4 linked regions of the Homo sapiens genome follow. The protein of the gene in region 2 interacts with the protein of the main gene of each other region in a pairwise test. Each region holds a gene or a part of one and is shown on either strand. Other genes may lie near its edges. The genes, in order: VAPB, CYBRD1, LPAR3 and TMEM120A.

The links.
Region 1: the proteins of CYBRD1 (region 2) and VAPB interact in binary tests that used the Homo sapiens proteins (3 or more experiments, as listed by UniProt).
Region 3: the proteins of CYBRD1 (region 2) and LPAR3 interact in binary tests that used the Homo sapiens proteins (3 or more experiments, as listed by UniProt).
Region 4: the proteins of CYBRD1 (region 2) and TMEM120A interact in binary tests that used the Homo sapiens proteins (3 or more experiments, as listed by UniProt).

The regions. Positions count from the first base shown.
Region 1 is NC_000020.11:58,392,228-58,399,250, reverse strand, and holds part of VAPB (vesicle-associated membrane protein-associated protein B/C), read right to left. Parts: intron 1-7,023. UniProt on the Homo sapiens protein: Endoplasmic reticulum (ER)-anchored protein that mediates the formation of contact sites between the ER and endosomes via interaction with FFAT motif-containing proteins such as STARD3 or WDR44.
Region 2 is NC_000002.12:171,518,131-171,525,496, reverse strand, and holds the start of CYBRD1 (plasma membrane ascorbate-dependent reductase CYBRD1), read right to left. Parts: upstream 3,024-7,366; 5' UTR 2,952-3,023; coding exon 2,759-2,951; intron 1-2,758. UniProt on the Homo sapiens protein: Plasma membrane reductase that uses cytoplasmic ascorbate as an electron donor to reduce extracellular Fe(3+) into Fe(2+).
Region 3 is NC_000001.11:84,883,186-84,890,208, forward strand, and holds part of LPAR3 (lysophosphatidic acid receptor 3), read right to left. Parts: intron 1-7,023. UniProt on the Homo sapiens protein: Receptor for lysophosphatidic acid (LPA), a mediator of diverse cellular activities. May play a role in the development of ovarian cancer. Seems to be coupled to the G(i)/G(o) and G(q) families of heteromeric G proteins.
Region 4 is NC_000007.14:75,991,594-75,999,137, forward strand, and holds the start of TMEM120A (transmembrane protein 120A), read right to left. Parts: upstream 3,003-7,544; 5' UTR 2,978-3,002; coding exon 2,897-2,977; intron 965-2,896; coding exon 846-964; intron 668-845; coding exon 551-667; intron 1-550. Other genes in the region: STYXL1 (serine/threonine/tyrosine-interacting-like protein 1), read right to left, coding at 4,875-5,006. UniProt on the Homo sapiens protein: Multifunctional protein involved in mechanosensation, and plays an essential role in lipid metabolism and adipocyte differentiation. May function as a potential ion channel involved in sensing mechanical stimuli.

The sequences.
Region 1 (7,023 bases), on a different chromosome or scaffold from region 2:
TCGGCTCACTGCAACCTCCACCTCCCCAGCTGAAGCGGTTCTCCTGCCTCAGCCTCCCCAGTACCTGGATTACAGGCATGCACCACCACGCCCGGCTAACTTTTGTATTTTTAGTAGAGATGGGGTTTCACTATGTTGGTCACGCTGGTCTCGAACTCCTGACCTCAGGTGATCCACCCACCTCAGACTCCCAAAGTGCTGGGATTACAGGTGTGAGCCACTGTGCCCAGCCTTTTCCTTTATTTTTCTATCCCATTTCTCTTTCAAGCCTCTTTCTCTAGTCTCACTCCTCCTCTCATCTTCCTAACATAATAAATAAGAAAGCCAAGGGCACACTCCCACTTATCTTTTAAGGGAAGAAACACAGCCAGCATGACGACAAAAAAAAAAAAAGCCATAGCCTTTGCAATCAGACAGATCTTGATTCAAATCCCAGCTCCAACCCTCAGTCAGGTTCATAACTTGGGTTAATAACTTCAGGATCATAACTGTACCCACTTCCTAGGCTTGCATTAAGAATTAAATAAATGAACGCTTAGAAAAATGGCAAGCGCACAGTGTAAGCTCGCCAAGTCACATATCTCAAATGCCATCTTCCCTGTGAGATCGAACACCCAAAGCAGAATTAACACAGCTTTTTCTAAGCTCTCAATAAGGACAGGCCATAAATATCTTGTCCCCATTTTCCCTCGTCTCCCAATACCTAGAGGCTGGAAACTTTAAGGGCTAGGCCTTCCTCCCAGGTCCCCAGTGCAACCTAGTGCCTGGCCCACAGGAAGCTTTCAGTATGTGGTAACTGAACCAAATCTCAATCAGAGTCACGCTCAATTCCCCCAGAAGGAGTCATCTGTCTATAAAGAAAACCTCAAAGGATCTGCAAAGGGCAGAAACCCAAAACAGCTCTAATTTGGACAATCATCTCTTATGTACAGACAATCCCCGATTGGTTTGACTTGCGATTTTTCAATTTTACAATGGTGTGAAGCCATCATAATTTTGACATATTTTGAATTTTGATCTCTTCCCAGGCTAGTAATATGCAGTACATGAGATATTCAATACTTTATCATACAATAGGCTTTGTGCTAGATGACTTTGTGCAACTGGAGGCTAACTTAAGGGTTCTGAGTATGTTTAAGGTAGACAAGGCTATGATGTTGGGTAGGTTAAGCTGTATCTAATATGTTTTCAACTTATAATATTTTCAACTGACAATGGGTTTCTGAGGATGTAACTCCGCTGTAAGGTGAGGAACATCTGTAAGAGATCATTATATCCATGCATGTCTCTAAATCCTTTCTGATCCAATTCGTATGCCTGGCGTATCATCGTCTTGGAAAATGACGACTTCCCAAAGTGTATCTCATACAGAATAAAACAGCACTTTTTAATCACCTTAAGTTTACCTCTTTGAACAATTGAGACAAGTCTCTAGTTTATTAACTCACCCTTATTTGTTTCTCTGTCCAAGGCAATGGCTGGTCAGGAGCATGCAGAACTAAAGGTTTTGTAGCAACACTTACAAAGTTTAAGGTGGCACTGCTAAAGATCATTTATTTTAGACATTCCTATCTTAATAAGTGCCCTTTACAACTTCTTGAATTCCCACTCTACAAACCTGCAAGCCTATGAAATCTCTACCACACACAAGCTTTGCCCTGCCTTCCAAAGACTGGATAGCAGAAGGACAAATTACCCACAAGTTAATGTGTTTTGTTTTTTTTTTTTTTTGAGACAGAGTTTTGCTCTTGTTGCCCAGGCTGGAGTGCGATGGCGGGATCTCGGCTCACCGCAACCTCCGTCTTCCAGGTTCAAGCGATTCTCCTGCCTCAGCCTCCCAAGTAGCTGGGATTACAGGCATGCGCTACCATGCCCGGCTAATTTTGTATTTTTAGTAGAGATGGGGTTTCTCCATGTTGGTCAGGCTGGTCTCGAACTCCTGACCTCAGTTGATCTGCCTGCCTCAGCCTCCCAACGTGCTGGGATTACAGGCATGAGCCACCATGCCCGGCCGAATGCTTTCTAAATATATAGAATCAAGAAACCATCAGAATCTGATATAAAAGTGAATATTCACAAGAGAAATCAAACATTCTTTGGAGTCATCTGTCTGAACTTTTTCAAAAGTAGGGCAAGAAATCCCTCCTAAAAAATTCAGAGAATAACTCTTAATGAATTGATGTTCTTAAGAAATTGTCCTGACAGCTATTAATACTTCATTAATGGTTTTAAATTCTCTGCCTCCCTCTCTCAAGAACAAACCCCTTTATGAGTTAACTCTAATGAGCTGATACTGGTATGAGGGAAAGTACAAGGCTTTGCCTGTGCCACCATTTACTAGTGCAGCCTCATCCAGCAGAAAGTTACCTAGCCACTGACTAAGTCATCTCATACGATTGTTACACAGATTAAACAGTAACATAAATATGGCAAAGCACCTCTTACCACAGTTCCTAAACTGTGTGGCCTATCTTCTGGAATTAAAGCATTTATCCTCTAGAAATGTTTGTTCCTTCTTTACCTTTCTTTACCCTTATATTGCAAAATGTATGTCAGCCACTGCTTTTAACTCCAGACCCGACCCAACGGGGTGTTGGGGGGCACATTTCACCACTCACACATATGACCACTCCCAGATCCTTAGGTTCCATTTTCAATTCCCCTCCATTCTCTGAGCACCCTTCAGCCTTTCAAGACAACTCAAGGAACTTAGAGCTCTAAACCACATCACAAGGAAGTAATTTAAATCTAGGTAAATGGTCTAGGGGTACATCCCATTGTCTTAAAGTACAAGCTAAAAGATGAAAAACACTGCAGTCTCAATCTACCCCTAAAACATTTATTGCCCTAGTCTCCACTTCCCAGATGGGCAAAGGCTGAAGGAGCCTACTGAAATGCCAACAATGTAGTAATTGAAACACATTATAGGTATCGGCCAATGTGCCCTACACAACACGAGGTGGGCATGCACACACACACCCCCCAAAAGCGTGAAGACATCACTTGACACAGGTGAAAATACTAACATGCTAACCAAAGGTCAATATTAGCCCTTCTGAAAGGATGAAGGAAAACTCCAAGAAAGCATTTCTGTAGCTTTACAGTTCTATGCAATAAAAAAATGTTATTAAAAGAAAGTATTCCAAGGTTTTCTCACGGGACTATGCCATTTTCTCAACTGCTTCCCAACCCCCAAACCCCCATGCAAGGGGGGTTTGTCTTTGTCTACAAAGACAGTGTTTGTAGACATCAACAGCTTCTGTTAAAAGGATGCATTTAACAGTTTGAAAAATATTCTAGAGATAGTATTTTACCACATTCAGTTATTTTGTTTGTTTTTTAAATAATCCTCAAGTGACTGTCAAGTTTAGTAACTTTGTTTCCATACCAAAGCTCTTTAAACAACTCTTCCTTGTGTAAAGCCAGCTGCCCACATCTGTCAGGTAAGAACTTCAAAGAACGCACATACCCACTGAGCAAGGCCAAAGCAATCCTGGATATGCTATGCTGATAACAGCCTGAAAGGGGCCTAAAATGATAGAAAAAAACAAGGATGCCAATCTGGAAACCATAATGCAACTTTGTTTTTAACACAATCCTCGGTGCAAAATAACGCAAAAGGCTTTTGTTTTATTTTATTAAAGACATTCTATGGCAACCTTGTCTTGACTAATGGAACTCAGCACTCTTTGTATTCATCTTTCTTGTCATCTAGTTGAAAGCTGTGCTCATTCGTCCCAAATCATGATCATCCTTTAGACAGCAAATTTTTCAAAAAAGTGGGGATATATAAGACACTCTTGGCCTGGCGCAGAGGCTCATGTCTGTAATCCCAGCACTTTGGGAGGCCGAGGTGGGCGGATCACGAGGTCAAGAGATCGAGACCATCTGGCCAACATGGTGAAACCCCGTCTCTATTAAAAATACAAAAATTAGCTAGGCATGGTGGCATGTGCCTGTAGTCCCAGCTACTCGGGAGGCTGAGGCAGGAGAATCGTTTGAACCCAGGAGGCGGAGGTTGCAGTGAGCCGAGATAGTGCCATTGCACTCCAGCCTGGCAACAGAGCAAGACTCCATCTCAAAAAAAAAAAAAAAAAAGACACTTTTGGAGATAATTCTTTATGTAAAAATTCAAGTTTCGGTTCTAAAAATCATGCCTAGGGGTAGTATTTGAGTGATAACCAATATAATATACTCCCTTGACTCCTCCCCTAATTTTCAACTACTTAGCGATAATAACACAGGGTCAAAGTTCTCAGTATTCTGCCTTCAGCATTTGAAGGAAACATGCATACAATTTTAATAAATACAAGATAGTGTTAACGTTTAAGAGTTCAGCTCTTTAATAAGCATCAATTCAGACTAATTATTTTAGTAAATCCACACTTGGATGAAAAGCTCCCAGGTAATTATGAAGATAACAGTGATCTATGTCACAACCACTCACGTTAAGGAAACATCATTGCTTTACAAACATAAGCACATGGTCAAGAACTATACATTTTTTCCCCTAAGGAGTTAACTGTGAAGAAAAAGGAGTGAATAGGTGGATAAAAGAAAGTTAACTTCCAGTCCACATTTTTCTCCCAGGAACAAGATTTCAGAAGTAAATGGTACTATCTATGAAGATTTACGTTTGACTCAAGTTTAGTAAGTTTAATGCCGCTTTTGATAAGCAAGCTACTTAATAATTAAATAAATGAAGATAATCTATTCAGGGTGGATCTAAACCACTACCACGAAGAATCTTCAGCACATGGCTGACGCTCTGTTGTGCTGTAAAGCACAGTCTGCTCCACGTGATCATGAAGTGTTAAGAAAATCAGTGCCATGCTAAAGCTAAAGAATTAATGCTGTACTTGGCATCTGAAAGATAATTACTGCACTGAATGAACTATATCCACAGGGCTTTAGATTTTTTAACTTCCTAAACAATCTTAAATTACACATCAACTTGAAGGGCTGAACTAAAGAGTCTAAGCCAACTTTTCCCATACAAAAAACAAAACAAAACAAACAACGTCCTTAAACTATCATTTAGAGTGTCCAAGTTTCTATTTTCTCCCAAAAGTGGTACTCAACTACACTGATTCATTGGTGCCCTCCCATCTGAGATCCCTACTAATGGCAGGACTATCTAAGACTTCTTGAAGGTCATTGGTTCAGTCAAGCAATAAAGCAAAAGTAAATGCATCCACAGTTATGTTTAAACCTTAACCGGCTGGGTGCAGTGGCGCACACCTATCATCCCAGCACTTTGGGAGGCCGAGGTGGGTGGATCACCTGAGGTCGGGAGTTCGAGACCAGCCTGACCAACAGGGAGAAACCCTGTCTCTATTGAAAGTACAAAATTAGCCGGGCATGGTGGCGCATGCCTGTAATCCCAGCTACTCGGGAGGCTGAGGCAGGAGAAGTGCTTGAACCCGGGAGGCGGAGGTTGCGGTGAGCCAAGATCGCGCCATTGCACTCCAGCCTGAGCAACAAGAGCCAAACTCCATCTCAAAAAAAACAAAACAAAACAAAACAAAACAAAACAAACCTTAACCTAGTGAGGATGGATGTTCAACAGACCATTTCCATGTGACAGTATCATTGCTGGGGGAATGGGCTAGGATGTAAGGAATGATCTAGAGTCCTGAACGACCAAAAAATATATGACATACTATTTACCACAGATGGACTCTCATGGAAGGGGAGGGAGAAGGGAATGAAAGAAGAGTGCTATATAATGCCTTGAAAGTGACTCATTCGGAAAGCTCTCTTTGAGCTGGACAACAAGTGGGATCTCAGAGTGAGGAGATGGCAAGGAAACGATTAGGACTTGGAAGAACTGAGATCAACAGAAAGAGTGACAATTTTAAAAAACTCCTATGACTTAGTGAAAAAGACAAAAAGAAATATAAAAGAAAACACACACTTAGGCTGCATGCAGTGGCTCATGCCTGTAATCCCAGCACTTTGGAAGGCTGAGGCGGGAGGACTGCTTGAGGCCAGGAATTCAAGACCAGCCTGGGCAACATGGCAAGACTCTATCTTTACAAAAAAATTTAAAAATTAGCCAGGAATGGTGGCATCTGTAGTCCTAGCTACCAGGGAACCTAAAGCAGGAGGATCTCTTGAGCCCAGGAGTTTGAGGCTACAGTGAGCTATGATGGCACCACTGCCCTCCAGCCTGGGTGACAGAGCAAGACCCTGCCAAAAAACAAAAACATTTACTCTCTCAGAAAGATACCCCTAGTCTGAAAGAGCTTAATGTTCACTTACTAAAAATATCTCATGAAAGTCAACCTTAAGTCTAGGCAAATCCTCCTGTGTCATGCTTCTTTCAGGAAGCCACCAGGCTTTCTCCTTTTGATATTTATGATGCAGCATAGTACTTCCTATAAAACTGCATAAAGTCATATAAATTTGCATTCTTTTTCTTCTGTAACATCCTTAAATTTAACATACCACACAAAATTCCCAAGATTAAAGAGTCTGACAATATACAATCCCATACGATCAACTTAGGCTGCATTTAAAAGATAATTTTTCCTTTGAATGGGCATTTTAGTTATTACCTTCTCAAGTAAAGTTAGCTCAGAGGTTCATCTAGGTGAACGACCAGAAATCAGAGTCGTCACCCTGAGTAACCTGGAAGAAACCAGTTAAATGTGCCATTTCTCATCCTGAAATGAATTATCTCTAAGTCAGGGTATTCAGTCTCTATTAATTGTACTGTCTTAGCATTCAGTTTAAAACAAACAAACAACACACCTCATGACGTCATTTAAGAACACACACAGATGTCTCTTCTAAAGTTATGAGCCAGAGGCCTTCAACAATTTGGTACCACTTCTCTTGGACCACTTCCCTAGCAAAAATATCCAGTGACTTTGGCATAATTACTTTGGCCAATCCAGGGCCAGAATGATCGCTATTCTCTGCCACACCTTTCAGGTACAGAAGTGATGAAACCACTTAAGTAGTTAAGTGGTTGTCTAATCTCTGTATAGTACTATGCACTTACAAAGCCACTAACAG
Region 2 (7,366 bases):
ACTCCCCCTCCTTCCACTGGAGCCTTCCTAATACTTAGGGTGAGGAATGTGGATGGGTTGGCCAAGATATGGAAGAACTGGGGAGAACTATACATGTGCCTACATGTATGAAAACATTTATGCTCATGTCAATTAAATGCATTATGATTAAAGTGATTTGCACATCCAGGATCCAAACAGGAAACAGGATGAGTAATGACGGGACAAACTCTGGACCATTGATACAAATACAGTAATTGAACCTAAAGAAAACAAGATCGGCCGGGTACTGTGGCTCACGTCTGTAATCTCAGCAGTCTGGGGGGCCGAGGTAGGCGGATCACTTGAGGTCAGGAATTCGAGGCCAGCCTGGCCAACATGGTGAAACCCCGTCTCTACTAAAAATACAAAAATTAGCTGGGCGTGGTGGTAGGCATCTGTAATCCCAGCTACTGGGGAGGCTGGGGCAGGAGAATTGCTTGAACCTGGGAGGTGGAGGTTGCAGTGAGCCAAGATTGCGCCACTGCACTCCAGCCTGGGCGACAGAGCAAGACTACGTCTTGAAAGAAAGAAAAAAAGAAACAAGATTTTCGTAAGAGCAGCAGATGAAAATTGCCAAAATTTACACATTTTTGTCCAAGAGTTAAGTATGAACAGATTAAGAGAAGTACAAAGTTTAGAGAAATTTAAAAACCTTTTAGAAAACCGTATATTGGACTCTAACATGAATGAAGAGTTTCAAAACATATTTTAGATGAAGGTTTTCGCTGTCTAAAAAGATTTGGCAGAAAATAAGCATATTGCCATAAAAGCAGAGAATCCAACTTTGACGATAAGGTCACTGAAAAGACTTAAAACAACTTTCATGGGTAAGTTACATAACTTCTCTGCCTCAGTTTACTCTTACATACATGTGATGTGACATAATGCACTTAGTGGACACACAGCATGCAATCACTATTAGCCATTCTGATGTCTTCTCCTCTGTGGCAAGTCAGGCAACGAGCAATAACACTTGTGTTTCCCTTACCCTCAATTATGAGAAGATATTCCAAGACCTCCAGAAAGCTTTTTGGTATTAGAAGCTGCTCTGAAGAGTTGGGTAGAAGAGGAGACTGGCTCTACTCTTTGAGCAAACAAGGTGTAGACAGCTCGGGGCCAAACTTAAGGGCTCCACCACGAAGGAAAGAGTGCTTCTGACAGTTACTTTGGAACTTGAGTATGTTTTTTTCTTATAAGCATAGTGGCAAAATAACTGAGAGTTACGCAACGAAATGCCTTAGGTGCCCAGTGGTGCTCACACCCTGATGCCGATCTCACACCCTGATGCCGATCTCACACCAGGGAAGCCTTTGAATGCTGAGGGTTAGTAACACCTTCCACTACATTCCAGAGTGGGAGAATGCTGGCCACACTTGCCAAAGCTGCAGTACAAGTTTAAAACAACCAACAAAAACAAAAGCCAAAATCACTTTTCTTTAGGAATGAGGTCAGCACTCTTTTGCACACTCGTTTGTGGGGAGTTAAATATTTGGTGAAGAAAAGGCAGCCTGCCCGCAGGCAAAGCTAGAGATTTCGGCCAGTGGGCATATCTTTCCAAACCCTTGCTACTCCTCTCGATTATTTTCTGCGACATAACACCACTCCACCCCTTGCTGCCTTTCTCTAACTACTTTCTGAAGGCCGTGCCTTTGGGGAAGTGGTTACAAATAAATGGTGTTTGCGCCAAAAGCTAGAGGTTCCTCCAGCTACACGGCAAACCGAAGGAAGCAGTCAGGACATTGAGAGGCACTACACAATGACAACAAACATTGCCAGCGACTGCTGAGCCCCTCCCCCGCGCCAGCCTCAGCCCAGAGAATGCAGGCCCGGGGCTGGCTCGCCGCGGGCCAAACACGGACGCAGCTTGCGCCGGGGGCATCCCGAGCAGAGGCATCCCTCGGTGCCAGGCAGCCGCGGGCCCTCTCCGGGCATCTCCCACCCGGAGTGCTGGGCCAGTGCCCAATAGGAAGCCCCGCGGGGGAACTTTCGCCACTCTTCTGCCACATAAACAAGTCGGGCTCAAGACCGTCCAATGACTGGGCAGGGCGGCGAAACACACTTGGAAGTCCTGGCAGCTTCCCGGACTCGACTGAGTTTAACACTCTAGGAGGAGAGGAACCCAGGGCGGATGCTTCACTCGCCCCCCTTGGCCAGCCCCTTTACCCAGGGCCGAGGATGTTACAAATACGGGCAAATTCTCGCTCCGGCAATCTTTTCCCCGCTGCCTTCCCCTCCTCATCTGCAGCCTGGAAGCAAGTTCAGCAAAAGGCTGAGGCGAAAGTGTTTCCGCGCCCCCGATCGCGCAGGCTCGGTCCACAGGGGCGACTTTCCGGGGCGCGTGGGCTGCAGCGGCCCGACTGCGCGGCGCTCCGGCATCGCGCCCGGGCTCAAGTTTCTGGGTCTTGGAGGCCCCTCCAGTGCGTCCTAGCCAGTCGCCGCAAAGAGTTAACCAAGTGGGGCCGGCCCCGCTCCGCCGCCCCCAGCAGCGCGTCTCCACCGCGCACCCCCGGCCCCGCGCTCGCGGCGATCCTCCTGAACCGCAGCTCTGTCCCGCCCCAGAGCCAGCCAGCCTCCCTCCCGCCCAGCCGACTTGGCTTCCCGCGCGCTCCTCACCGCACTCCTCCGGGCCCCGCGATCCTCCAGCACTTCCTCAGCTGGAAGGGGCTTCACGGAGGACCCTCTGCCCCCGCCGTTCTCCCCGCTTTCCTCCCCGCACCCCCCCAGGAGGTGCCAGTACCGATGCCCTGGATGAAGACGAAGCCGGTGACCATGAGCACTGGGTGCCAGTTAAACTCTAGTGCGCTCCCATCCCAGCCAAGCCCCTCTCGGTAGTGGAGGACCCAGACGAGGGCGAAGATCACCGACAGGAAGCCGACGAGCAGTGCCGACCCCAGCAGCGCCAGGAAGCGCCAGTAGCCCTCCATGGCCATCAGCGCCCCATACTCCGCACCGCGGGGGCCACAAGAACTTGGAGAGGCGGCGGCAGCCCTCTGGGTAGTGGCCGGGCGGCGGGACCGGGGCGTCGACTTCTTGGGGCTGTCTCCGCCTGCGGGGAGGGACTTTCTGGGCTGCTGGCCCGGAATGTGGGGCCTCTTGGGGGTGGGGAGCTGGCCCCAACTCAGAAATGGGCCCCACCCCCGGGATCACGCGGCCGCCGAGGGCGCTCATTGCCTGGTGGCCTCACCCTCTCCCTCGTCCAGCATCCAAGCTCGCAGAGGGCTTCAGTAACAGACCTAGTTAGTTGCTCAAAGAGAAAATTCCGAGGATTTTATACTCACCACTTGCTTTTAACACTTCCCGTGTCTCGTCCTTATTTGTGGGGAGGTTGAGTAGGGCAGTGGTGCGCCCTCTTGGTTAAGAGAAGAGAGGGATCCGTTGGGTAGGGTTATGTGTGTGCTTTTAACTACTAACGAAGCCTCCTTAGCCACAGTGCTGGAGAATTGGCTGTCTCTGACATCAAAGGGTGTTAAGGAGGAACCTGTAAGGTGGTGTAAACTAAAAATAAAATCCTAAGCCCCTCACTGACTGAATGGACCTCCTTGGCCAAGCAGACCCCAGAAAAACCTTAAAGCTGAGTTTCTAGCTACAGCCGGAAGGGAAGTCTACCCCCTCCATTTTGGAATTTAGACTCAACAGCTGACTAGCATTAATGTTTAAAATAGAAATCATAAGGCGGACAGAACAGACTCTTTGTAGCAATAAGACATCAAATTATAAAAAGGACCTAAGTCACACACTCCTACACTTAAGAAATAAACTATGGTCTAACTGCCACAAAGGTTTTCTTTTCCTCTAGAGGCTAAACAAGCACTGGCTTGAGATAAGCAATATTAAAACAATTACAACTTAATCAGTTCACAGATGCTGACCAGCTGAACCCCTGTTGCACCAGCCAGAACTACAGCTTTCACTGGGCTGATTTCAGGAACTTTTTCATGATAAGAAGACCGACCATGGACCGGTTCTGGCCAGTGTACAGGGATTGTGCACTTGTATGCATTCACGTCCTGAAAAGACCTTTTGAAGTGTAGGTTTGAAGTAATACATTTAAATGTATTTGAAGTAATACAATTAAATGTTAAGTCTCCACCCCAAAGAGAACATGTTACATGCATGTTTGTTCAATATGCATGTGTAAGGACCACCTCCATTAATATTCATAGCTCCTCCTGTAACCTGTTACGTATGTATGTTTGGCCAAACTGTTCAGCATAAAGCTCCTACCCCAACCCCTCTGCCTTCCAAGTGCCTGTCTCTGGTCTTAGGCCAGAGGCTATGTTTATCAGCCTATGGAATGGCCTCCTTGCAGGCTATAACCTTTTATAAGAAATAAAGTCTCCTCTTTTTTCAAATTTATAATTTTTTGTTTTAAGTTAACAGTAAAGGCCAGGCGCAGTGCCTCACACCTGTAATCTTAGCACTTTGGGAGGCTAAGGCGGGCAGATCACTTGAGTCCAGGAGTTTGAGAACAGCCTGGGCAACAAGGTGAAACCCTGTCTCTACTGAAAATACAAATGCATGCACCTGTAGCCCCAGCTACTTGGGGGACTGAGGAAGGAGGATCACTTGAGCCCAGAAGGTCGAGGCTGCAGTGAGCTGAGGTTGCACCACTGCACTTCAGCTTGGGTGACAAAGTGAGACTCTGTCTCAAAAAAAAACAAAAAACAAAAAACAAAAAAAACCCAGTAAACCGGGTCCCCATGAGGTGTCTCACAGCTGTAATCCCAGGGCTTTGGGAGGTGGAGGCAAGAGAATCACTTGAGCTCAGGAGAGGTATGATCGCACCACTGCACTGCAGCCTGGTGACAGCTAGACTCTGTCTGGAAACAAAACAAAAACAGCATGGGCAGCGGTGGGCTTGGCCTTATCCTGCAATGAAACTACTTGCAGTTTGCTCTTGAGAGAGGGAAGACAGGAACCTCCTGGACCTGGACTTGCCGTTTAGTGTGACAAATGGATTTTCAAAGTGCCCGCCCACCCAAACCAATTTGAACCAAAGCCCCTCCTTGATGAAGTGAAGCTTGCTCCCTGCCCTCTTTCCAACATTATCCTCACCCTTCTCCACTGGACAAAAACAATGTCAGCATTATCTAATGCTATTATAAGAAAAAGGGTTCTGACTGCCAGGGCTTCCAGAATGCATTTGGGAACGTTCACTTCTAGCCCTCTTCTGTAGCTCATCTCCAAGGACTACTTTGCTATATTGTCTTGTTGCCGTCTTGAAAGACCTTAGAATGTGCAGGAAGTATACGGGGATGATTTTCAAAGCAGGCTAAGGAAATAGGAGTGGCAAGCCATGGTAGTAGGGCAGGATTAAGGGCTCAGAGTAAAAGGCTGTAGACCTCACCTGTGTCATTATTTTTCCCTTGGTGGGGAGAGTAAGCAAATGGAAGAGAAGGATACCTTTCCCCAGCACAAGGCTTTCTTTGATCTGGTCCAGCCTAGCACCCCCTGCCAGTCTCTTACCACAACCTGACTGGCCCTGATGTCCTTGGCTGTAAACTGCTCTGGCAGCTTCTGACCACTTCCTACCCACGCCACTGCCTCTAAATTTCCCTGACCCCCATCTCCACTGAGAAACCTTCCCTGAGTCTGCCCCTGCCCAGACTTTTATATCCCACTGACCTCCCCATCCAGTGCCTCCTTGTGTCACCTGTCAGGATGTAATATAAGGATCTGCTTCTCTGGCTGTCTCCACTCTCAGACTGCCCTATTGAAGGCATTGATTCTCTAATTGATCATTTTATTCCTCCTTGGGATGTGGTAGTTACTCAATAAACATGTGTTGGGAGGCTAATGAGACTGAGTGTGTTAATCAGGGTCCTGGCAGAAAACAAACAGCATATTGGAATTGAGTAATTTCATAATGAACAAGACTGTTTATGAAGTTGTGGGCAGTGTAGGAAACCTCAGGGTTAGGCAGTGCCCCAGGTCTGAAGGGCAGAGAATTACTGGAATCCAGAGAGAAAATTGTGCGGAGGGGGAAGTCCGATAGAGGCCTTGAGTACAGGGATGCAGCCAGCCTGCAGAGACCTCATAGGGAGAAAGATGGAAGCAGATAAATATTCCAGCCTTACTCTTCTCCCCTCTGATCTTCTGCCTAGGGTGTCCCAGGGGCTAACCAGAACCTAATCAGAAGCCACAGGGCAGTCCATGTATCCATCCCAGGTCAACTTAGGGCACAGAGCAGAAGAGAGAAGAGTGAGAGCGGATCCCTAGGAATAAAAGGAAACTATCCCTGAATCTTCCGGTTTTATTTTTTCAGACCTTTTTTTGGTTCCTGAGTGCTGCAAACATTGCCTGTTTCATCTTACACTGATTCTTTTCCTTTGCGAACTTTAGCTTGTAATTCTATAATGACATCATTGTATCCCTATCCCTCTCCCTAAAAGTATCTAGTCTTTGTCCTCAATTAATGTTTTCACCCCATTGACCTAACACCTTCACTCCACTCTTGAGTTAATTTTGCTTCATAGCAGCAGCAGATGAGAATCTCTGGGATTCCAGACCCCATTTAACAAAACATTTCGGGAGGATGAAAACATGGCCAAATGGTACCAATGGTGTTGAATCATCTTGAAGTTATATGTAAAACTGAGAGAATTTCAACTTTTAAATTATCTTTTAAGAACCTAACTTTGATATTAAATAAAACTGTCACTGAGAAGGGGAAATTTTTCAATAAACATTGTTGTGGCTTACTGTTAACCTTTTAATTAATTAATTAATTATTTTTCTTTTTGAGACAGGGTCCCACTCTGTCACCCAGATTGGAGTGCAGTGGCATGATCTTGGCTCACTGCAGCCTCCACCTCCTGGACTCACCCTCCTGCCTCAGCCTCCCAAGTAGCTGGGACCACAGGCGTGTGTCACCATGCCTGGCTAATTTTTGTATGTTTGGTAGAAAGGGGGTTTCATCATGTTGCTCAGGCTGGTCTCAAACTCCTGAGCTCAGGAGATCCACCTGCCTTGGCGGCCCAAAGTGCTGGCATTATAGGCATGAGCCACCACCCCTGCCTGTGAACTTTTTTAAAACAGAGTTGTTAAATGATAGAAGTTTCCCTCTGGAGATTGTAAGCAGTTTGTCACCAAAGTACCTAATCAGACTCAATAACCTGTCAGCAATGCTGTTGGGTGATTCCTGATGTAGCAGGTGGGGGAGAGCATTGAAGAAGATGGCCTTCCTAAAAACCTAGAAGCTGGCCGGGCGCAGTGGCTCACGCCTGTAATCCCAGCACTTTGGGAGGCCAAGGCGGGCAGATCTTGAGGTCAGGAGATCGAGACCATCCTGGCTAACACGGTGAAACCCTGTCTCTACTAAAAATACAAAAAATTGGCCAGACGT
Region 3 (7,023 bases), on a different chromosome or scaffold from region 2:
AGAGGAGTCAGAGAAAGTCCACTGAGCTCCACGGTGAGCTTGTTCCCAAAAGGCTGGGGAAAAGGGACCCCAACAGAGAATATTGGGAAGAGGAGACCAAAGGAAGAATCCTTTCCCTCACACTGGGTGGGTCACCACAATAACACCCTAAAGCCAAAGCCTTCTCTCTTCTACCAATCTAGTCAGAGAGTCACTAGCTGGTGTTTTTCATTACCTTTTAGTCCCAGAGTCCCAGATGAATGTGTACAATCAGGAAAGAGGGGTTTAGCCAGCTGGGTTGAAAACCTAATGTTTAACATTCTTACTATGTTACCATACTTCCTCTAAACCACTCCTTCAGGATCTTGGAGTAATCCACCAAAACACATTCACTGATATACTAGTGAACAAATTTCAAAGTTTACATCTCTTTCCCCATTTGATCCCACAGTGAGATGGGCAGTTCAGCATTCTCCATTTTACAGAGAAGAAATGTAGAAATTGGGGACTGATTCACCCTGACCAGCCCTCATCCTTCTGGCCCAGGGATTTTTTTGTTTTTTTTTTTTTTAAACAATACTGACCACTGGAGCCTCTTTTTGGAAGCAGTCTCTGCCACCTGACCCCCAGAGAAATGTAAGACGTAGATTTGTTCTCCATAATGACATTAATGCCTTTTGCAAACATTTACTGAATCTAGAAGAAATATAATTGCAGAAAGTAAAAAGTTTCCTCTTCAAAGTTTCCCTTCTTGTTAAATAATAAATCATAAATGTTAGAAATAATAGTTTCTTTTAAAATTTTTCTTCAAGCCTCCTTGCTTTGTGCTAATAACTCTTTGTTAAGCATGTAGCTGTTGGACATGCTCACAGGCATGTTCCAGCTCACAGCCTATGCCCCTTTCTTATTTGGAAATGTTATTACTTCTTTAAATTTTTCAAAAGCAACTTCCTCTTTTCCTTTGTTCTCCCTTGCCTTTACCTATCTAAAAAAGTTTTAGGCTCTTAGCAAATCGGGTATCAGTTTAGACTGTGAGGTTCGGCTCCAGCCAGTGGATGCAGGACACAGCAGTGAGGACAACCCAAATGTGTAAGGGATAAATATGTCTGCTTTTCCTTTGTTTGGTGTACTCTCGTGGCAAGACTGCTGGTGAGTATACCCTTTCCGCAGAAAGTAAAAATTGCCTTGCTGAGAGAATTAAATTTATGTTCAAGCGCTATTTCTTTGTGGCACCGGGGAACAAGCATTTTGCATTTCTAACATAATGATTGTGGTAAATGTCAATAAAAATCTTGAAGCACATCTCTCCTTAGAGTTTTTGGTAAGAGTTTATGGAGGAAAATCTATATAATCAAATGAAAATATCACAGTAAAACTCTAAATGCATCATAGAAATTAGCAACCATTAGTCAGTTTGCCTGTTTCAGAGAAAGCTCAGAAGAAACTCAGTTTACCTCTACAATGTTAAATGATGTTAACACCTTCTCCTAAAGCATTTTACTTTCCCCATCAACAAAACAGAGTATATCAGCTGAAATAGGCCACAGACCTCATTGTCTGTCTGTACGAAACTGGGGCAAAAATGAACTCAGAAAGACAAGTAATAACCTGGTAGCAATCCATGGAAAGTTAACCTTGCTGACATTCCTCTTCACTTCCCTCTGTTGGATGTTCCTGGAATTTGCATTTGTGGAAAGTTGCATACTTGCAGTGAACAAGTTCCACTGGTCCTGTTGTAGTGGATTCCACCTAACCTTTTATTCCTCTCATCCCTGTCCAGCTAACGTTCTCTCACTGTTCAGCATATGTACGTCAAAGACAGAAGTGCATGAAGACATGTGTAAAGATGCAAAATTCCCCCAGGAAACTCATTATCTAGAGCAGCCAGGGCCAATCCTCTCCTCCTCCCAGGGATTCCTAGCAATATCTGGAGACATCTGCATCAGTCATGACTTGGGGGAGGGGGGTACTATTGGCATCTACCGGGCAGAGGCCAGGAATGCTGCTGCACACGCTACAATGCACAGGCCAGCTCTCCACAACAGAGAAGTATCCGGTCCAAAATGTCAGTGGTGCTAAGGTTGAGAAATCCTGACCTAGAGGGTGAGATGAGACATATAATACAGGGTTAAGTGTGGCAGAGCTGTAATAGAGCTAAAACTGGAGTGCTATCAGATTGATAACATTTAAACAAGCGGCTATTACTTGCCAACAAGTGTTGGCAAGAATGTGGGGAAAATAGTACCCTCATAACATGTTGGTGAGAATGTAAACTGATAGAACTTTGGGGGAAGGCAATTTGGCAATATCTAATGAGACTTTAAAATATATACACTATTCCTCTTTGCTTTCCTTCCATTCCTATTTTCTTTCTTCCTTTCCCTTCTCTTTTCTTCCTTCCCCAGAACACAGCAATCAGCATGTAGCTGGGAATGCAACGTGAGGCTGGGGAGTTTGGGGAGGTACATAGAGACATGAGCTATGGCTGGGAAGAGCTGTGAGCTAGAGGGACTGGAGACTGATGATTAAGCTACATAGAGACACAGGCTAGCAGGCCTGGCAGCCGAGGACAAGAGGCAGTGGCAAAGGTGGTGGACACAGAGGAGGCAGGATGACCTTCACATTTGTAAGACTGGTTACTGTATGCAAATAAGCAAAAATATTGAAGATAATGAGAGTCAGGTTTTCTAACTGCCAGAGAAGATATGTACAAACATATAAAGGGGGAAGAACAGAAAGCTCTTTGGGTGTTAGATTGAAATTGTAGGTATAAGTATGAATCATGATTTTATAATACACAGCCTAATATAGAAAAATTTATAAATGTGTGTACACATATACACATATATTTCCTAGCTCTGTCCTCTGAGAGATCTAGAAGCAATAATACCCCAGTAACAATGGGCACATCAACCTCCTATGTATTGGTGTCTAAATACAATTCTCATATTGCATATTAGATCTCAAGACTTATTCATCCTACATAACTGCAACTTCGTACCTTTTAATCTACATCTTCTGTTTTTCCCTGTTTCCACTAATGTACAACACAAGGACTACAGTTACTAATACTGTATTGAGGCTGAGCATGGTAGCTCATACCTGTAATCCCAGCACCTGGGATGCCAAGGCAGGAGGATGATTCAAGGCTGGAGTTGGAGGCCAGCCTGGGCAACACAGCAAGACCCCTCCTCTAAAAAATATTTTTTAAATTAGCCGGGAATGGTGGTGAGCACCTGGAGTCCTAGCTACTTGGGAGGCTGAGATAGGAGGACTGCTCAAACCTAGGAGTTAGAGGCTGCAGTGAACTATGATCACGCCACTGCACTCCAGCCTGTAGTACAGAGCAAGACCCTGTCTCTAAAAAAATTAAAATTAATAAATATTGTATTCTGCTAATTTGCCAAGAGAGTAGATTTTAGGTACTCTTATCACAAACACAAGAAAGGTAACTATGATGGGCATGTCAATTTGCTTGACTGTAGTAATTACTTCATTACATCTATGTTTATCAAGATAAATACATGAAAATATCATGTTGTATGCCTTAAATATATAAAATATAAATAAGACAAAAGTACCATTCTCTACTAAAAGGGAGGCCTAACTAGGTCAAGGAAAGTAGAAGATGAGTCCAGATGATCTGGTGGAGCCAGAAAATAAAGAAATGCTCAATGAATAATAGGGATGTGTTAAAAGGACACAGGAGGCAGCTCCAAGGGGTCCCCATTGGCCAAATTGAGCACAATTTGAGCATTAAAATAAAAAACAATCGTGAGACTTCAACTTATTGAATACATAAGGAATCCATGAACAGTTCTTAGTAAAAACATAACAGAAAAATAAAGTTCTTCCTTATAGTAGTATGCCAACTAACAAATGTAGAAAGAGTGACGGTGATAAAGAATCATCACTTGAGGCTGGGTGCAGGGGCTCATGCCTGTAATCCCAGCACTTTGGGAGGCCAAGGCAGGTGGATCACTTGAGCTCAGGATTTCGAGACCAGCTTGGGCACCATGGTGAAACCAACTCCATCTCTACAAAAAATACAAAAAAAAAAAAATAAGCCAGGTGTGGTAGTGTGCACTTGTAGTTCCAGCAACTTGGGGGGCTGAGGCAGGAGGATCACTTGAGCCCAGGAGGTTGGGGCTGCAGTGAGCCAAGATCATGCCACTGCACTCCAGCATGGCAACAGAGTGAGACCTTGTCTTAAAAAAAAAAAAAAAGAATCACCATTTGGCAACATTCATAGAGGTGGCTGATTCAGGCAGACGTCATCAATAAATGGTAGTTTCTGTAGGTACAGGTTTAATGAGGAACAGGCTATTTGCATAACCCTAGAATAGTTCCCCACAAACACTAGTACAAAGGTGTTTTCAAACACCTTTGGGGAAACAAAGGGAAACGAAGGAAAAATGGCGAATTTAAGGTGAAGAAATCTGGCAAACACCAACATAACCAGGTGATTGAGGTCAATATCCCAGCAGTGGGATGGGTTGGCACCATGTGCCTTCTGTTGTAAGAAGCTAAGAAGAGCTGAGTTTCATTTCTGAAGGATTCCTGCCAAGAATGCATGACCTCAGTCAGGCTGTGAAGAAATACCCAATACAGCCAGGTTGGGAGTCATCCTACAGCATGTAGGACCTATACAACTGCAAACACTTTAGGAACAGGGAAAGTCTGAGGAACCGTTCCAGAAGAGACATGGTAACTAAATGTAACATGAATCCTAGATCAGACAGGTAGAAGAGACATTTGGGGGATAACTGACGAAATAGGAATGGGCTCTGTGGATTGGATGATAGTGTTTTGTATCAATGTCCATTTCCTGATTTGATGGGTGTACGCTGGTTATATAGGAGGACAGAGTGCTTGCTTTTTTTTTTATGCTGGAGTGTTTTCAAGAGTGATGGAGAATAATGTCTATGACTTCCTCTCAGAATAAAGACTGATGATGTATATTTTATATATATATATATACATACATACACACACACACACACACACACACACACAGAGAGAGGCAGAGACAGAGAGAAGGAGGGAGGGAGAGAGAGGGAGAGATTGAGATTTCAAACCTAATGCCATGGAGACATAGAAAAAGATTATACTACTTATTTTCTCTTCACCAGACCCATGTGATAGTTTTTGTCCAGAGAAAGGCCTTCCTTACCCCCATTCGACGAACTGACTTACTAAAAATCAAACAGGGCAGGAGGTAAATGATTCACTGATGTGCTCCCAATAAATTCTATACTTGATCCCTTGCTTTGGTTTTCTATAACTAGTCACTGCCAATGGCTTTGAGTCTTAACTCTGGCTTTCTACCTCCTTAGGGAGTGAATGCTGCTGATAGACTCCGCTGCCTATCTTTGAATTACATGGTCTGAGTCTGTCTGGGGGCAGCTCCAGAATTTCTACAGAGGATGTGCTTCGGGATAGCTTGGCTTAAAAGGGGAGACCAGGGGCTTGCCTTAAAGCTGCATTTATAAAGCAAATACACTGCTTTTATTTAGACCGCATGTTTGCTTGGAAGGCCTTTGGACCAAATAGTGCACTTATGGAGGGGCTAATGTGCCCTCCAACCCAGCCCTGCCACCTGCCAAGCCATCCCTTGATAACTGGTCAATCTGCACATGGGTGAGTCAAGGCCAGGGCTAGTAGAAGCTCCAGCTTAATGTCCCAGGGAACAATGTAGACACAGGACTAGCTGATGAGTAATTAGAGGGGTTGATGAACATCCTCAGGAAGGGGTGGGGCAGGCTGTGCTGGGCAGGTTGCTTTCCACAGTGACACCCAGTCTGGCCCAGCCTGAGGTGTACAAATGATTCACATCTGAAGAGGGGTGACAGAATCATGGGAGTAGGGCAGTATCAGGGGTCATGGGCAAGGGAGGAGTTCAAGGTTGTAGATACACAGGACAAGAGGCCAGCCAAGGAAGAGGAATAAAGAGGAGGACATAAGACTGGGGGTGATGAAGAGAGGGGTGGGTATAACCCAGGATGTCAGAACCTTCCCCTCAATGGTACTAAATCCCCTCCCCCACCCTCCAGCTGGCTTGCCAGGACAGGTAGAGAGCAACAAATATCTTTCAGACTGAATTAAGTAATTAGCTTAATTTGGGGGTGGGGGAGCAATGCCTTTGGTCAGTTTAGAACTTTGCAGAGTAAACTAGAGACCCAAGTCAGCAAGAAGGCACAGGGGAGTGAGGATGGTATAGGTGGACCCAATACATTGTCCAACATTGCCATCAGCACCCTCCTCCTGACCTGTGGGATGGGTGGTGGCCAGCTGTTTGTGTTTGTCCACTAAGAACTGAGATGCGCAGACAGTACAGGTAATTCCAACACGAAATTAAAGCTTCTTTGGAACTTTGCCCTATGCCTTCGATCATGTAGTGTTGGGTAACCTCAGTCCTGAAATTTAACTTCCTCTCATATTCCCCACAGAGCAGTTTCTCAACCTTTGATGCTATTTCCTCCTCGAAGTCCAGTATGATGTCAGAGGACGGGAGAGAGGAATATGGAAGAACTGCAGCAGTGCCCCCTTAGCACTCAAAACATGCTTGTGGAGATACTGCCAACCCCCAATAGCCAGAGCTGAGTGGGCCTGCCTGGGGTGGCCCACATCTGGATGTCCTGCCTCTTTAATTCCAATGTTTATGCACTCTTCACAGGGTACAAAGCTCTTTCACGTACATAAGTTAATGGAACTCATTAACAATCCATGTAGACAGGTAGAAAAGTAATTATTATCCCCACTATATAAATGAAAAAAACTTAAACATGACAATCTATTCAGGGTCACAAGAACTCACAAAAGTGGGACTAGGATTCAAAGACAGAACCCTGTGCTCCAAGTACCTCTAGTCCACCGTTTGTAAAAGCACAAAGTCTCTGCACTTATGCAGATAGCTCCCCAGCCCCATCACCACCTCTGCCATCCACAGCAGGACTGAGTTCCAGGTGACTCCTCCACAAATACAGAATCCAGGATGAGGAACAAAGGATCATCAAGGCCGGAAAGGGGGAGGCTCAGTACCTG
Region 4 (7,544 bases), on a different chromosome or scaffold from region 2:
TGGGTTTTACCATGTTGCCCAGGCGGGTCTTGAACTCCCGACCTCAAGCGATCTGCCTTGGCTTCCCAAAAAAGTGCTGGGATTACAGGCATGAGCCACCGCGCCCAGCCTATTTGTTCTTTTTAAATAAATAGAGACATAGGGTCTCAGTATGTCACCCAGGCTGGTCTTGAACTCCTGAGTTCAAGTGATCCTCCCACCTCCATCTCCCAGAGTGCTGAGATTACAGGTGAGAGCCACCACGCCCGGCCCACTCTTTATTCTGTAAGACTCAGCCCACCCATCCCCTAATCCAGGAAGCCTTCTGCGACCTCCTGGACTGGGTCAGGTGTCCCTCACTGTGCCACCTCATTCCCCATGCTACAAAGCACCTATCACAGTGAAATGTCACTCTCAGCCAGGTGTCTCCCCTGAAGTCAGCACTGTGCCTCATTGCTCAGCCTGTACTGGGCCCAGGGAACATTTGCTGACTATAATGACCAAGAGGAGGCAGCACCCGGCTTCAGGAGTGGCTGTGAACTGAGCTGGGGGTGGCGGTGGGGGCCCTCACCCATTCTTCTTAGGCAAATAGGCCTCCATGTCAAAGAAGAGGCCTTGGCGCTCTTTCATCTGGTTCTCCAGCTCCTGTGCGGCCCCCTCGGCCTCTGCTGGGAGGGAGGGTTTGCATCTGCGGGTAAGGCCAGAAACAGTCAGGGCAAGAGGACTCCCAAGTGTCCTCCCTGACTCCCACAGGGGCAGAAGGGCAAACAGGGCCCAGAGAGGGGAGGGGCGGTGCCCAGGGTCTCACAGCGCCAGCCCTCCCACCCCACACTCTGCCCATGGCGGGTGGGGTAGGGGATCCTAACTTCTTCAGGGCGAGGGCCAGCTCCTGGAGCCGCTTCTTCTGCCGCGTGATGGAGCTGGTGCAATTGTTCTGAAGTTTGGTCAGCTCCTCCAGCTTCAGGCGGTAGAGCCGATGGGTCTCCTGGGGGCCGGAGGGGAGAGGCTCAGGCCAGTTGGGGAGCTACTGAGCCAGAGCCTGCAGGCAGGACGTGGCGCTCAGGCTCCCCCAGGGCTGCTGGGAGGGTTTCGCTCAGCGGGAAAGGAGGTAGAACTGTGCCTGCCCAGGGATGAGGTGGCTGTCTCCCCAAGGCAGGCAAGGACCTGGGTGTCCTCCTGTGAGCCCAGAGACCCCCACAGCACCCCTCCTCCAAAAACAGACTAGGTGTTTTTGTTTTTGTTTTTGTTTTGAGACAGTCTTGTTCTGTTGCCCAGGCTGAAGTGCAATGGCAGGATCTCAGCTCACTCCAACCTCCGCCTCCCGGGTTCAAACCATTCTTCTGCCTCAGCCTCCCAAGTAGCTAGGATTACAGGCACCTGCCATCATGCCTGGCTAATTTTTGTATTTTTGTAGAGACAGGGTTTCACCATGTTGGCCAGGCTGGTCTTGAACTCCTGACCTCAGGTGATCTGCCTGCCTCGGCCTCCCAAAGTGCTGGGATTACAGGCATAAGCCACCGCACCCAGCCAAGGTTTTCTTAGTCTCAGCCCATCTGCTAGTTGTCCCCACCCTACAAGGACAGACTCTTTCTCCTACCTTGAGTCTGGAGCTTAGGCCCCCAGGGCCACCTCCTGGACCAAGCAGGCAGCCCAGAGCCACCCCTCTATCCTCTCAGCTCCTCCTGCCTATCTAGCCTTCCAGTACAGGAGGAGCTCAGGTTCTCAGGAATCCCTGACATCTTCTTCCCAGGTTAAAGGTCATCAGGTTTCAACCCTAGAGCCTCCTGCTCTAAGGCCAGCCCCACTCCCTTCCCCTAGCACCTTTGGCCCAAGGATTCCCCAAGCACTTTGCCCTGGTAGGTGAGTCTCAAGAAGGCGCAGCCTAGAGATGGGGCAAGGGGCAGTGTGAGGAGAGCCAAGCAGGGGCTGTGGCCAGGACAGCGGCGGCCAGGCGGGGAGACTGGGTCTGCTCAGTCTCTGGGGAGAAGCACCAATGGCAGGGGCCTTGGCAGGGCCAGGGGCAGCTGGGTTTCAATGCCCACAGGAAGCAGTTGGAACCAGTCCAGGAGAGGCCAAGGGCTAACCAAGCCATCAGCTGGCCAGGGCTCTACTCTGTCTGGATCTTGTTTCTCATGCCCAGGAGGGGTCACCACGCCCCCTCGGACCCCAGCACGTGCCACTTCTGCCCACCCACAGCCACCGCCCTCTTCCCTGCCTGGATGAGGCCAACAGCCTCCTCCTCCCTGGCCTCTGGACAGAACAGCCACGGTGGCCCTGGGGAGCTCAGTCCAGACAATTCCTCCCGTAGCTTTCCACTGGCCTCGGAGGGACTCTGATCTCTGCCAGGCCAGAGCGTCCCTGCAGGGCCTAGCCCCGCCCACCCCTCCCACCCGTCCCACCCCTCCCCTGGTTCTCCTTGATGCAGCCACATGGGCCTGTCAAGTCCCCTCTTTCCTTCCAAAGGCCTCGGCGGCGCGCGGTATCCCTCTGCCTGGGGCGTCCCCCATCCAGGCCGAGGACACCCCCCTAAACGCTGCTCCCCCGACCTGGGCTGCCTCTCGGGCGCTGCCCGCTGCGCGTTTGCTGAGTGGCTGACCCAAGGCTGGGCCCGCCCGTGTGTGACTCAGGCGGCCGCTCTCTTCTGGGAAGGGACGGGGTCGGGGTCTGGGCCCCTTTCCAAGGCCCTCATTGGAAGCCGAGGTCGCCCAGCGCGATGGGGTCCCGCCGGGGTTCCCGGACACTGGAGGTGGTGGCAGTGGACACCAGGACCAGGGGCCTCGCCCCCCTTGGCAGTGACGCCAGGGCCCCGACCCCTGACCCTTAGCTCCCCACTGCCTGACCCAGGGCTGCCCGACCCTTGACCCTGAGCCAGCGAGACGCGGCTCGGGGGCGACCCGGCGTCCGCAGCGGCGCTAACCTGGATGTTCTGGAAGTCCTGCTGTAGATCCTCCCAGTCCCGCAGGCAGTCGCCCAGCGGGCCCGGGGGCGGGGGCTGCATGGCTGCAGCGCCAGTAGCCAGTAGTGGAGGACGGCGCAGCAACCCCGGCCCACCCGAGGCTCCTCCGCCACCGCCCCCGTCCGCTTCCGGGCTCGCGCCGCCACGGGCACCAATGGGGAAAGGCCACGCCCCCCACCCCAGCCAATCCGGGACAGGGGCGGGGTATGGGCGGGGCCGTATGCAAGGGCGGTTGCTAGCCCCGGGACTCGCGGCCTGGACCGGGACTGGGACGGCTGCAGCCCCCGGGCCTGGACTGCACTGACTGTGCCAGCCGCGTGGTGCAGCCAGCAGGGCTCTGGCCCGTCATGCTGAGAGCAAACCAAGGTGCAGGGAGGTGACACCTGCTTGCAACATTTTCGTCCTTGGGAAGCTGAGCCTCTTTGGGGAAGGGAGTTAGAGCTGCTTCTCTCGCTTGGATTTTTACAGCGGCCTCCTTTCTCCCTGCCTCACCTCCACTGTCCCTTCTCGCGGCCACCGGACTGCCCTTCCCAAAACACAAGGCTGATTCCCCATCATGTTCATGCTTAAAACTTTCCAGCGGCTGTGTCCTGCCTACCAGGAGGTCCCTAATCGGAGCTCTGCAGCCATCCCGGGCTCTGTCCCAACTCACACCCTGAGGAAAGCCAGGGCTGTGTGTAAAGCCGTTCCCCCTCTGGCAAAACCCCACTCCTCCTTGAAGGCCTGCCCTTCTGTTGAGGGGAATCCCCCACCCCCTCCCACCCCCATCCCTCCACAGAGCGCGCTAAGTGGTGGGACGGCATTCATCTCTCTGTTCCCAGCCCCACCCACGCGGTGGCAGGGAATGGTTGCCGAATGGACTTGGGGAAGGTCCTGCATGGATGGACATCCTAATCCCCTACCAGTCCCCTAGTCTGTGCCGTCTCCTGATGCCCAGTTTGTTCTGTGGGTGCTGCCAGCTTTGGAGAAGTGCATTTGGAAAACAACTTCCAACTGGGTGCCGTGGCCCACACCTGTAATCCCAGCATTTTGGGGAGGCCGAGGCTGGAGGATCACTTGAGCCCAGAAGTTCGAGACCAGCCTAGGCAACAGAGCAAGACCCTGTTTCTACAAAAATAAAAATAAATTAGCCAGGTGTGATGGTGCATGCCTGCATTCCCAGCTACTCACTCAGGAGGTTGAGGTGGGAGGATCGCTTGAGCCCAGGGAAGTTGAGGCTGCAGTGAGCCATGATTGCGCCACTGCACTCCAGCCTGAGAGACACAGCAAGACCGTGCCTCCAAAAAAAAGGAAAGGGGGTAAAAAAAAGGAAAACTTTTAAGACCTTAGGAATTTCTAGAAACGTGGATAGGGAGATGGGGGAGGGGGTGAGAATCTCTCCTTGGTGAACACAGCCAGGCAGAAATGAGTGGGGAGCAGGGAAAGAAAATCTGTTTCAAGGGGTGGATGGCAGGAAGCGCTGGGGATGAGGCAAGGGTGTGATCCCATTCTAGGAGCCTGGGGGCTAGACAAGGCTGGGCTTGGTATCTCTGGGACTAGGGGACTGCCTATTGGTGGCTATTGTGACATCCTCTGTGAACCAACACAGGCAACCTCTGGGTACCCCCAGGCAGCCTCCAAAGGGTCTAAGTCACCAGGGGGATGCAGGGCAGCTGCTCTAGCAGCCAGATGCTCTTCCAGAGGCAGCCTCAGGGGTGCAGTTGGGATGGCCCGCGACACCTCAGGGATGCGGGTTCTTGGTGAACCTGAGCAGGGCGCATCAGCTAGGTGGCGTGAACAGGCACTTGGGAAGAATCAGTACAGGAGGCTAACATGAGACTTTCAGGCAGCAAAGGCCTTCTCCTTCCAGACAAGCCTGGGTATACACACTCTGGCCCTCCACCCACAAAATGCCCCCAGGTGAGGCTCTTCAGTACCCTTCGGTGGGCCTCGGAGAAGATCAGTAGAGCGGATCCATGATGTTTGTGATGGAATCTCCAAGGATAGTCTTCTCCCATTCCAGCAGCTGGCTCACCAATCCCCGATTTGGACACATGTTGTTTTTGCACTTCTTGACATAGGCCCAGGACCTCTATGAATACAAAGAGAGAAAGTGAACTTCACGATTGGTCCTGGGCCCTTTCCACTTGGATCAGAGGCAGCTTTCAGAGACAGGAGGCACTTGCACAGTGCCAGCAACACGGCTTAAGGGCTGGATGCAGAAACAGGGCAGCCTGGCATGAATGCATCAGTGCTGGGAGTCATGGGAGCTGACTCTGCCTTGGGCAAGCCCCTCTGCTTCTAAATCTGGTGACAGAAATAATTCCTATTTCAAACAGCTTCTGGGAAGATTAAGACAATATACATGAAACCACCTGTGGATGGCAAACACTATGCCAAGCCTAGTGCAGTCTCAACAAAGGTTTGCATTGTGACTGGACAAATTAATGGAAAGAGGAAGAGAACTGTGGGCAAATTCTCTGAAGAAGAAAATTCAAGCTGCCCTCCTTCAGGCATCCACCTTAAAGTACAGGAAGTGTTGCTGCATGAAGGAGGGTGAGCACCTGGTCTCCATCTGGATTGAGGACAAACGAAAAAGGGAAAGGCAAGAGTGGTGCCTAAAACTAGGAACAGAAGGAAATGGCCAGGCACAGTGGCTCATGCCTGTAATCCTGGCACTTTGGGGGGCCGAGACGGGTGGATCACCTGAGGTCAGGAGTTCGAGACTAGCCTGGCCAATGTGGCGAAACCCTGTCTCTACTAAAAAAATGCAAAAATTAGCCAAGTATGGTGGCACATGCCTGTAATCCCAGCTACTTGGGTGGCTGAGGCAGGAAAATTGCTTGAACCTGGGAGGCGGAGGTTGCAGTGAGCCGAGATTGCACCACTGCACTCCAGCCTGGGTGACAGAGCAAGACTCTGTCTCAAAAACAAAAAAGGAAGGAAGTGATGTCAACCTGATAAAGGCCATATATGAGAAGCCCACAGCTAACATCACACTCAATGGCGAAAGATAAAGTTTTTCCTCTAAGATCGGGAACAAGGCAAGGGTGCTTGCTTTCATCACTTCTGTTCAACATAGTCCTAGAAGTCCTAGCCAGAACAATGAGGCAAGAAAAAGAAATAAAAGGCATCTACAATGGATAGGAAGAAGTAACCTTACCTCTGGTTTGAAGATGACATGATTTCATATGTAGAAAACCCTAAAGATTACACACACACACAACACACACACACAGCTAATAAATTCAGCAAGGATGCAGGATACAAAACCAACATGCAAAAATTAGTTGCATGTCTATATACTAAACAATTCAAAAAGGAAATTAAGAAAACAATTCCATTTACAGTAGCATCAAAAAGAATAAAATATTTAACCAAGGAGGCAAAAGACTTGTACACTGAAAACTCCAAAACAGTGCTGAAAGAAATTAAAGGTACAAACAAATGAAAAGACATCCTGTGTTCATGGGTTGGAAAGCTTAATATTATTAAGATGCCAATACAACTCAAAGTAATCCACAGGTTTAAGGCAATCCCTATCAAAATCCCAACAACATTTTTTGTAGAAATAGAAAAATCCATCCTAAAATTCATATGGAATCTCAAAGGACCCCATAAAAAATATTTAAGAAGAACAAAGTTGTAGGTCTCACACTTCCTGATTTCAAACCTTAGTCTAACAAAACTACAGTAATCAAAACAGTATGGTATGGACATGAAGACAAAGAGACTAGTGGAATAGAATAGCCAGCCTAGCCTAGAAATAAACCCTTACCTATATGGTCAAGCAATTTTTTTTTTTTTTGAGACTGAGTCTCACTCTGTTGCCCAGGCTGGAGTGCAATTGTGCAATCTCAGCTTACTGCAACCTCCGCCTCCTGGGTTCAAGTGATCCTTGTGCCTCAGCCTCCCAAGTAACTGGGATTACAGGCATGTGCCACCACGCCTGGCTCATTTTTGTATTTTTAGCAGAGACGAGGTTTTGCCATGTCAGCCAGGCTGGTCTCAAACTCCTGACCTCAGGTGATCTGCCCACCTCTGCCTCCCAACCTGCTGGGATTACAGGTGTGAGCCACTGCACCGGGCCTGTCAAGGAATTTTTGATAGTATGCCAAGACCATTCGATGGGGGAAAAGGACAGTCATTTCAACAAATGGTGCTAGGAAAACTAGATACGCCATGCAAAGAATGAAATTGAAAACAGGAAATCAATAGAGAAAATCAAAAAAACCAAAAGCCGGTTCTTTGAAAAGATCAATAAAATCGATACACCGCTAGCCAGGCTAACTTAAACAGAAGACACAAATTACTAATACAGAAGTGAAAGAGAAGACATTGCTACAGATCCCACAGACATTAAAAGGATAATAGAAGAATATTCATATCCACAAATGTGATTGATCAATTCCTTGAAAGACACAGACTGCCAAAACTCACACAAGAAGAAACAGACAATCTGAATAGGCCTACATATATTAAAGAAATTGAGTGGTGGCAGATGCCTGTAGTCCCAGTTACTCGGGAGGCTGAGGCAGAAGAATGGCATGAGCCCGGGAGGCAGAGCTTGCAGTGAGTCGAGATTGTGCTACTGTACTCCAGCCTGGGTGACAGAGCGAGACTCCGTCTC